2 separate regions of the Homo sapiens genome follow, and region 2 is linked to region 1. The links come from fine-mapping of genetic effects on gene expression. A gene starts in region 1. The other region holds a variant in brackets. All regions are shown on one strand. Distances are from middle to middle. Region 1 holds the start of IL12RB1 (interleukin 12 receptor subunit beta 1). Region 2 overlaps IL12RB1 (interleukin 12 receptor subunit beta 1).

Region 1 (4,000 bases):
TGGGTTTTTTTTTTTGTGTATGTGTGTTTTTTTTTTTTTGAGATGGAGTCTCACTCTGTCACCCAGGCTGGAGTGCAGTGGCACGATCTCAGCTCACTGCAACCTCTACCTCCCAGGTTCAAGTAATTCTCTCTGCCTCAGCCTCCCGAATAGCTGGAATTACAGGCACATGTCACCAGGCCTGGCAAATTTTTGTATTTTTAGTAGAGACAGGGTTTCGCCTTGTTGGCCAGGCTGGTCTCAAACTCCTGACCTCAGGTGATCCGCCCACCTCGGCCTCCCAAAGTGTTGGAATTACAGATGTGAACCACTGCACCCAGCCCAGCATTATGTTTTTGAGGGTTCATCCACATGGTAGCTTGGATCAGAGCTTCTCCACTGACATTTAGAGGCTTTGCCGACAGTGGGGAGGGAGGGGCAGGAAACAAAATACTCAGAGGCTAAGAAATGGAACATGGGGGAAAGACTAAGTTGCATCTCTTAAATTTTTTTTTTTTTTTTTTTAAGAGACAGGATCTTGCTCTGTTACCCAGACTGGAGTGCAGTGGCACAATCACGATTCACTGCAGCCTCAACCTCCTGGGTTCAAGCCATTCTCCCACCTCAGCCTCCTGAGTAGCTGAGAATACAGATGTGTGCCACCACGACTGGCTAACTTTTAATTTATATATATATATATATTTTGAGATGGAGTGTCACTCTGTTGCCCAGGCTGGAGTGCAGTGGCGCGATCTCGGCTCACTGCAACCTCCACCTCCTGGGTTCAAGCGATTCTCCTGCCTCAGCCTCCTCAGTAGCTGGGATTACAGGTGCCTGCCACCACACCCGGTTAATTTTTGTATTTTCAGTAGAGACAGGGTTTCACCATTTTGGTCAGGCTGGTCTCAAACTCCTGACCTCGTGATCCACCTGCCTTGGCCTCCCAAAGTACTGGGATTACAGGCGTGAGCCACCGCGCCTGGCCTAATTCTTTATTTTTTATAGAGATGGGGTCTTGCTATGTTGTTTAGGTAGACCCAAACTCCTGGGGTCAAGTGATCCTCCCACCTCGACCTCTCAAAGTGCTGGGATTAGAGGGGTGAGCCCAGGTGCACAAGGCTGGAGCTTGGCATGTGGGGAGGTGGGCATTGTGGAGGGCCAGCATGCTGCAAGCTCTTTGTAACAATTTGTTGGAAGGATGAAATTAGGCCATCCAAGAACACTGCCCTCCTTCAGCTCTTGAGTCTCAGATTCAGAAGCTGGCGAGATGGCCCGGTGCGGTGGCTCACGCCTGTGATCCCAGAATTTTGGTAGGCCAAGGCGGACGGATCATTTGAACCCGGGAGTTTGAGACCAGCCTGGGCAACATGGCAAAACCCCCTCTCTTAAAAAAAAAAAAATGCAAAAATTAGCTGGGCGTGGTGGTGCATGCCTGTAGTCCCAGTTCCTGGGGAGGCTGAGGTAGGAGGATGGCCTGAGCCTGGGGAGGTTGATGTTGCAGTGAGCCGTGATTGCACCACTGCACTACAGCTGGGCCACAGATCAAGACCCTATCTCAAAAGAAGAAAAAAAGAATTTGGCAGCCAGGCACGGTAGCTCACGCCTGTCATCCCAGCACTTTGGGAGGCTGAGGTGGGTGGATCACTTAGGGTTAGGAGTTCGAGACCAGCCTGGCCAGCATGGTGAAACCCTGTCTCTACTAAAAATACAAAAATTAGCTCGATGTTGTGGCAGTTGCCTGTAATTCCAGCTACTCGGGAGGCTGAGGCAGGAGAATTGCTTGAACCCGGGAGGCAGAAGTTGCAGTGAGTGGAGATCATGCCACCACACTCCAGCCCGGGCGACAGAGCAGGGCTCCATCTCAAAAAAAAAAAAAAAAATTGGCTAGAGAGGGCCAGAGACCTGGCCAAGTGCATGGAACCACAGGTGGCCCATGGGCCCATGGGGCTGGCATCTGGGTGTTCAGTTCAGGTCTGGGGCCAGCAGGGCAGAACCCCCTAGAACCCTGACTTGCTCCAAAGTCAGACTTGCTCCAGAGTCTGTGGCCGCCACCATCACCACCACCACGGAGCTGACTTCCTGGGTTTCTCTTTCACTTTGACTTGCCTTAGGGATGGGCTGTGACACTTTACTTTTTTTCTTTTTTCTTTTTTTTCAGTCTTTTCTCCTTGCTCAGCTTCAATGTGTTCCGGAGTGGGGACGGGGTGGCTGAACCTCGCAGGTGGCAGAGAGGCTCCCCTGGGGCTGTGGGGCTCTACGTGGATCCGATGGAGCCGCTGGTGACCTGGGTGGTCCCCCTCCTCTTCCTCTTCCTGCTGTCCAGGCAGGGCGGTGAGTCCCCTGACCCTGGCATGGCGGCTCCTCTTGCTGGGTGGAGGCACGTGTATGTGTGGAGAGCTGTGGGCCTGCTGTGTGGGTTGGTTTCATCTCTCTGTGCCTCAGTCTTTCCTGCTGTCAAATGGGAGATGGGCAGTCATGGCTTCTGGGATCGAACTTAGACATCTTTCCTCTGGTCTAGATTTTCTCTTCTGTGAAATGCACTAAATTTTTTCCACCTCCCGGAGTTCAATGAGAAAAAAAACTAAGGAAGGAATAAAAAGCAAGTATGTATCTAATAGGTATACATAGTATAGTATCTTATGTATGTAGTTTACAATAGATAGACATACATAATATAATGTATACAGTCATTTCCATATTTACGGGGCAATGGTTCCAGGACCCTCTGCAGATACCAAAATCCAAAGATGCTCAAGTTCCTGATATAAAATGGTAAAGTATTTGCATATAACCTATGCACATCCTTCCGTATACTTTACTTATTTATTTATTTATTTATTTATTTATTTATTTATTTATTTATTTACTGAGGTAGGGTCTCACTCTGTGTCCCAGGCTGGAGTGCAGTGGCCTAATCATAACTCATTGCAGCCTTGACCACCTGGGCTCAAGTGATCCTCCTGCCTTAGCCCCTTGAGTAGCTGGGACTGCAGGTGCACACTACCATGCCTGGTTAATTTTTTTGGTGTATACTTTTTACAGAGACAGCGTCTCGCTGTGTTGCCCAGGCTGGTCTCGAACTCCTGGGCTCAAATGATCCACTCACCTTGGCCTCCCAAAGTGCTCAGATTACAGGCATGAGCCACCATGCCCAGCCTTCCCATATACTTTTAATAATCTCAGGCCCTGCACGGTGACTCACTCCTGAAAATCCAGCACTATGGGAGGCCAAGATGGGTGGATCACTTGAGGTCAGGAGTTCGAGACCAGCCTGGCTAACATGGTGAAACCCCATCTCTACTAAAAATGCAAAAATTAGCCAGGCTTGATGATGGGCACCTGTACTCCCAGCTACTTAGGAGCTGAGGTGGGAGGATCGCTTGAACCCAGGAGGCAGAGGTTGCAGTGAGCCGAGATTGCAGCACTGCATTCCAGCCTGTGTGGCAGAGCAAGACTCTATCTCAATAATAATAATAATAAATAAACTTTCCTTCTCTGTACACTGGGGATCAGCGGGGTGCTGACTTTTTCAATGGCTCTTGAGATGCACTGAGTGCCTGTAGAATGCCCACAGCAGTGCTGGCCACACCTCAAGGTCCCAGCGCCTTCAGGGGCCAGGCATGGCTGGAGACCAGCAGCAGGGAGGGGGCGAGAGGCAGCCCACGAGGTATCCTGGAGATAGTGGCAGTGAGTGGTCAGTCCAGGGAAAGGGAAGGAGGATGGGCTTTAGGCTCTCAGGGGTGGGTGGGTGGGTGGGGGTTCTGTGTCATCACAGAGAGAGATGGAAGGATGGAGAGCCTTGTGTGTTAAGCATCTTTCCCCCCTCAAGGTTGGACACTTGGGGCTGTTTCCTGGGGTGCCGCCTTCTCCCCCAAGGCTTCCAATCTGCCTGCAGGGCTCAGGACAGGTCCTTCTTGTGGGAGTGAGGGCGCCGGGGTCTTCCTGACCCATCCATGGTGGCATCCCCCTCCTTCTCTCACCCAGTTCCACACCTAGCAGACTGTGGCAATCCCAAAGGGCA
Region 2 (4,516 bases), 27 kb after region 1:
GGGGGCAGTTTATGCAAAATTTCTTTCTTTTTTTTTTCTTTTTTGAGATGGAGTCTTACTCTGTTACCCAGGCTAGAGTGCAGTGGCACGATCTTGGCTTATTGCAACCTCCCCCTCCCGGGTTCAAGCCATTCTCCTGTCTCAGCCTCCCAAGTAGCTGGGACTACAGGTGCGTGCCATCACACCCAGCTATTTATTTTGTATTTTCAGTAGAGATAGGGTTTCACCATGTTGGCCAGGCTGGTCTTGAACTCCTGACCTCAGGTGATCCTATGCAGAAATTTCTAGGGAAGGGATAGTAACTTTTGGGTCCTTGGTCATTCCCATGGAAAGGGGCGGTGACACTGGTGGGCATGTCTGATTGAAAGCTGCTTTCAAGCCGGGCACGGTGGCTCACTCCTGTAATCCCAGCACTTTGGGAGGCTGAGGCAGGCAGATCGCTTTAGGCCAGGAGTTGGACACCAGCCTGGCCAACATGGCGAAACCTCTCTCTACCAAAACTACAAAAATTAGCCGGGTGTGGTGGCACACGTTTGTAATCTCAGCTACTCAGGAGGCTGAGTCAGGAGAATCGATTGAACCCAGGAGGCAGAGGTTGCAGTGAGCCGAGATCGCGCCACTGCACTCCAGCCTGGGCAACAGAGCAAGACTCCGTCTCCAAAAAAAAAAAAAACCTCAGCTCCTCTCACTGGTCCCCTTTCCTCCCCAGGGCCGCACGGCACCTGTGCCCGCCGCTGCCCACACCCTGTGCCAGCTCCGCCATTGAGTTCCCTGGAGGGAAGGAGGTAAGGATGCCTTTTCTAATTCCAAGTCTTTTTATTGGGTGCACATGCTGGACAAGGGTTACGCATTAGCTCATTTTATTCTCTCCCAATTCATCAAGGTAAGGACTCCAAAACCAGTGCTCCATACCCCTTCCCATTTTAAAGACAGGCAGGCAGAGGTCCATTTCCTGGCACTAGAAACAGAATTCAAAGTGGCTTTATTATAAAGGAAACCTGATGGAAAAAATCCCAAGGGAATGGGCTTCAGATATGCCTGAATCCAGCGATTGGGGTCTATCTCGGAGCTGCCCGTTCAGGGTTCTTCCGCAGGCAGGCTGAGCCTTCTCTGATTGGAAGCAGGGTGTCCATTTTCCCCATTAACTGGGGCAAAAGTCTCAGGGCCATCACTGATTGGTCCAGCTTGGGTCACATGCCCTTCCCTGAGCCTATGGCTAGAACCAGAGGGGTAGGGAAGGGTCTGATGGGTGGGCTGGCCAGGGTCACATGACCATTGCTAGAGCTGAGGTGGGGTCACTGCACTGTCAACCACACCATCTGTGAAAAGAGGGAGGGAAATTTCCCAAAGACAGATGGGAGTGCTCTTCCTAAGAGGGGCTGAATGGGAGTCAGTGCGGCAGACTCCATCCTCAAATCGGTCTCAGGATATATGGAGTCTCGCTCTGTCACCCAGCCTGGAGTGCAGTGGCGCCATCTCGGCTCACTGCAACCTCTGATTCCCGGGTTCAAACGATTCTCCTGCTTCAGCCTCCCAAGTAGCTGGGATTACAGGCGTGCGCAACCAAGCTCAGCTAATTTTTGTATTTTTAGTAGAGATGGGGTTTGGCCATGTTCTCCAGGCTGGTCTCAAACTGCTGACCTCAAGTGATCCACCCGCCTCAGCCTCCCAAAGTGCTGGGATGACAGGTGTGAGCCACTGCACCCGTCCAGGTCTCAGGATGTTAGAGAATTTAACCAGCAGTGACCTGGTCCGTTCCATCCTGCTGTGGATGGGAAGTAGAGCTCTGCTCACAGCTGTGGCCCTACCCTCCCTCTGCAGACTTGGCAGTGGATCAACCCAGTGGACTTCCAGGAAGAGGCATCCCTGCAGGAGGCCCTGGTGGTAGAGATGTCCTGGGACAAAGGCGAGAGGACTGAGCCTCTCGAGAAGACAGAGCTACCTGAGGGTGCCCCTGAGCTGGCCCTGGATACAGAGTTGTCCTTGGAGGATGGAGACAGGTGCAAGGCCAAGGTCCTGGGGCCCAGTGGGCCAGACGGTCAGGGGTGCAACCCTGCCCGGGGGGTGGGGGGGCTAGACATCCATCGCTCCTGGGATATCAGGGCCTGGAGGCCTGAGGGAGAAACGAAAACATCCACTTTGTCTTACAGACACGAAGAGCGACTATCTCAATCACAACGGCTGGTTATTAAGCACTTATGGCATACCCAGCCCATTCCATCCACTCACATGATTCCCTACCAAATCCCTACAACCACCCCCTGAAAGGAACCATGACTGTTGTACTTTACAGATGTGATCGTTGAGGCTCAGAGAGGGTGAGTGACTCGCCCGAGGCTACGTAGCACACACAGGAGTCACATTTGGACCCAAATAACCCAGAGCTCCTCCAGGCTCCAGTGCACCTGCCTCCTCTCTGCCCCGTGCCTGTTGCCACCCATCCTGCGGGGG[A/GA]ACCCTAGATGCTGCCATGAAATGGAAGCTGCTGCACCCTGCTGGGCCTGGCATCCGTGGGGCAGGAGCAGACCCTGCCATTTACCTGTTCTGGCGTAGAATGGACTGGGAATGGGGGCAAGGGGGGCTCAGATGGATCCCTGGACCCTGGGCTGGGCATCCACCCCCAGGAGCACTGGATGGGGAGTCTGGACTCAAGGGCTCCCTGCAGCATTGCGGGGTCTTGTAGCTTGGAGGATCCAGGCATATAGGGAAGGGGGCTGTAAACTTTGTGGGAAAAATGACGGTCCTCCCATCCCACCCCCCACCCCACCCTCACCCCCCTATAAAATGGGGGTGGTGATAATGACCTTACACAGCTGTTCAAAATCATCGTAAATGAGCCTCCTCTTGGGTATTTTTTTCCTGTTTGAAGCTTGAATGTCCTGCTCAAAATCTCAAAACACGAGCCTTGGAATTCATTCATTCATTCATTCATTCATTCCACATATATTTATTAATCTCTTCCTCTAGGTCTCCTCCAGGAGCACCTAATCCGGGGGAGACAGAGCCGGATGAGAGCTTGGAACCCTACTAAGTTAGGACTGAGCAGGGGAAGGGACGGCCTAGGGGGAGTGGAGCAGCCGGGCACTCCGGTAACAGGAACCGTGGTTTGCCCCCACGCTCCTTCCTCCTCACGCCCACCAACTCGCAGCAGGACCCTTGCCCCCCTTACACACCCTGAATCCTCCCTCTTTCTGCCCACACTGCCCCACCTCCCTCGCGTTCTGCAGCCGCCTCCCCCTGATCCCCACTGCGGTCTGAGCCGAGGTGTGGGGGGGGGCTCCTGAAATCCCACCCCAGCCCTGGCGATTAGCGGGTAGTCCAGATTCTCCCCATGGCCACCAGGTGGCAACAGCGGCGCGCGTTTCCCCGGCCGGGCCCGCCCTGCCTCCTCCCACCGCGTTTGCTAAACAGACTTTTCCGGTTTCAGACAGAGGAGGGGAGTTAAAAAGCCCAGAACTACTGAATTTTGTGGCAAAAAAAGGATGAGACCTCTCGGGGAGAGACCCCTGGCAGCCAATAGGGCCAGGAGGCAAGAGGCCCAGGCCCCGCCCCTTTGGTCTGGGGGCCTCCCTTTCCCCATCGATGCATCTAGATAGGGAAACAGAGGCCTGGATCTCGGTGCCCCAGCCACACGGTGGCTGGTCAGAGTTCTGCAAATGCCCCCCGCCCCGCTCCGGATCTGCCACATCCCAGCTTCTGCTCAAGCCGTTCCCTCCACCAGGCATGCCCTCCCTTGAGCGTTTATCCTCCTTTCTTTTTTCTGAGACGGAGTTTGGCTCTTGTTGCTGGAGTGCAATGGCGCGATCTTGGCTCACGGCAACCTCCCGGGTTCAAGCGATTCTCCTGCCTCAGCCTCCCAAGTAGCTGGGATTACAGGCGCCCGCCACCCTGACCAGCTAAAATGTGTTTGTATTTTTAGTAGAAACAGGGTTTCACCATGTTGGCCAGGCTCGTCTTGAACTCCAGACCTCAAGTGATCCACCCGCCTCGGCCTCCCAAACTGCTGGGATTGCAGGTGTGAGCCCTGGAGGCCCCTGGAGTTGGCTGCAAACCCACCCCTATGCACAGTCCCTTGGGTGCGAGAAGTAGGAGACAGGCAATGTTTACTGGCAGCAGCTGGGACTTTTGCCAGAGTGCATGGGGAAGATGCACACCCTGCTTCCACTAGCGGGAGACTGAGCTGGACAGAGGGAAGCCTGGAGCTTGGAGCCTCTTTCCTTCCTACCGTGGGGATGCCTGTCTGAGAGAGGAGCCTGCAGGGAGGACAGCAGCACCGAGATGAAGCATTAGTTCCTGGATCCAGCCATACCTGAAACCCAATATTTTCCATCTGGTTCCTGTTTTTAAAAAATATTTTAGGCCGGGCATGGTGGCTCACGCCTGTAATCCCAGCACTTTGGGAGGCAGAGGCGGGCTGATCACCTGAGGTCAGGAGTTTGAGACAAGCCCGGCCAACATGGTGAAACCCCGTCTCTACTAAAAATACAAAAATTAGCTGGGCGTGGTGGCAAGCGCCTAT

The links. PIP is the estimated chance that this variant, and not a neighbour inherited with it, causes the effect.
Region 2: its variant is fine-mapped to the expression of IL12RB1 in whole blood (INTERVAL, PIP above 0.99).

What each region holds. Positions count from the first base shown.
Region 1 is chr19:18,085,070-18,089,069 of GRCh38, reverse strand. It overlaps IL12RB1 (interleukin 12 receptor subunit beta 1), which reads left to right and starts at 2,136. Exons shown (of 17, transcript NM_005535.3): 1 at 2,136-2,310. The coding sequence starts at 2,247. RefSeq lists enhancers at 1,805-1,864, 1,875-2,224.
Region 2 is chr19:18,057,391-18,061,906 of GRCh38, reverse strand. It overlaps IL12RB1 (interleukin 12 receptor subunit beta 1), which reads left to right. Exons shown (of 17, transcript NM_005535.3): 15 at 710-785; 16 at 1,822-2,013; 17 at 2,294-2,912. The coding sequence ends at 2,299. Among named protein-coding and RNA genes, the nearest start is that of IL12RB1, 27 kb to the left of the region's middle. The variant A/GA (reference allele first, on the strand shown) is at 2,452.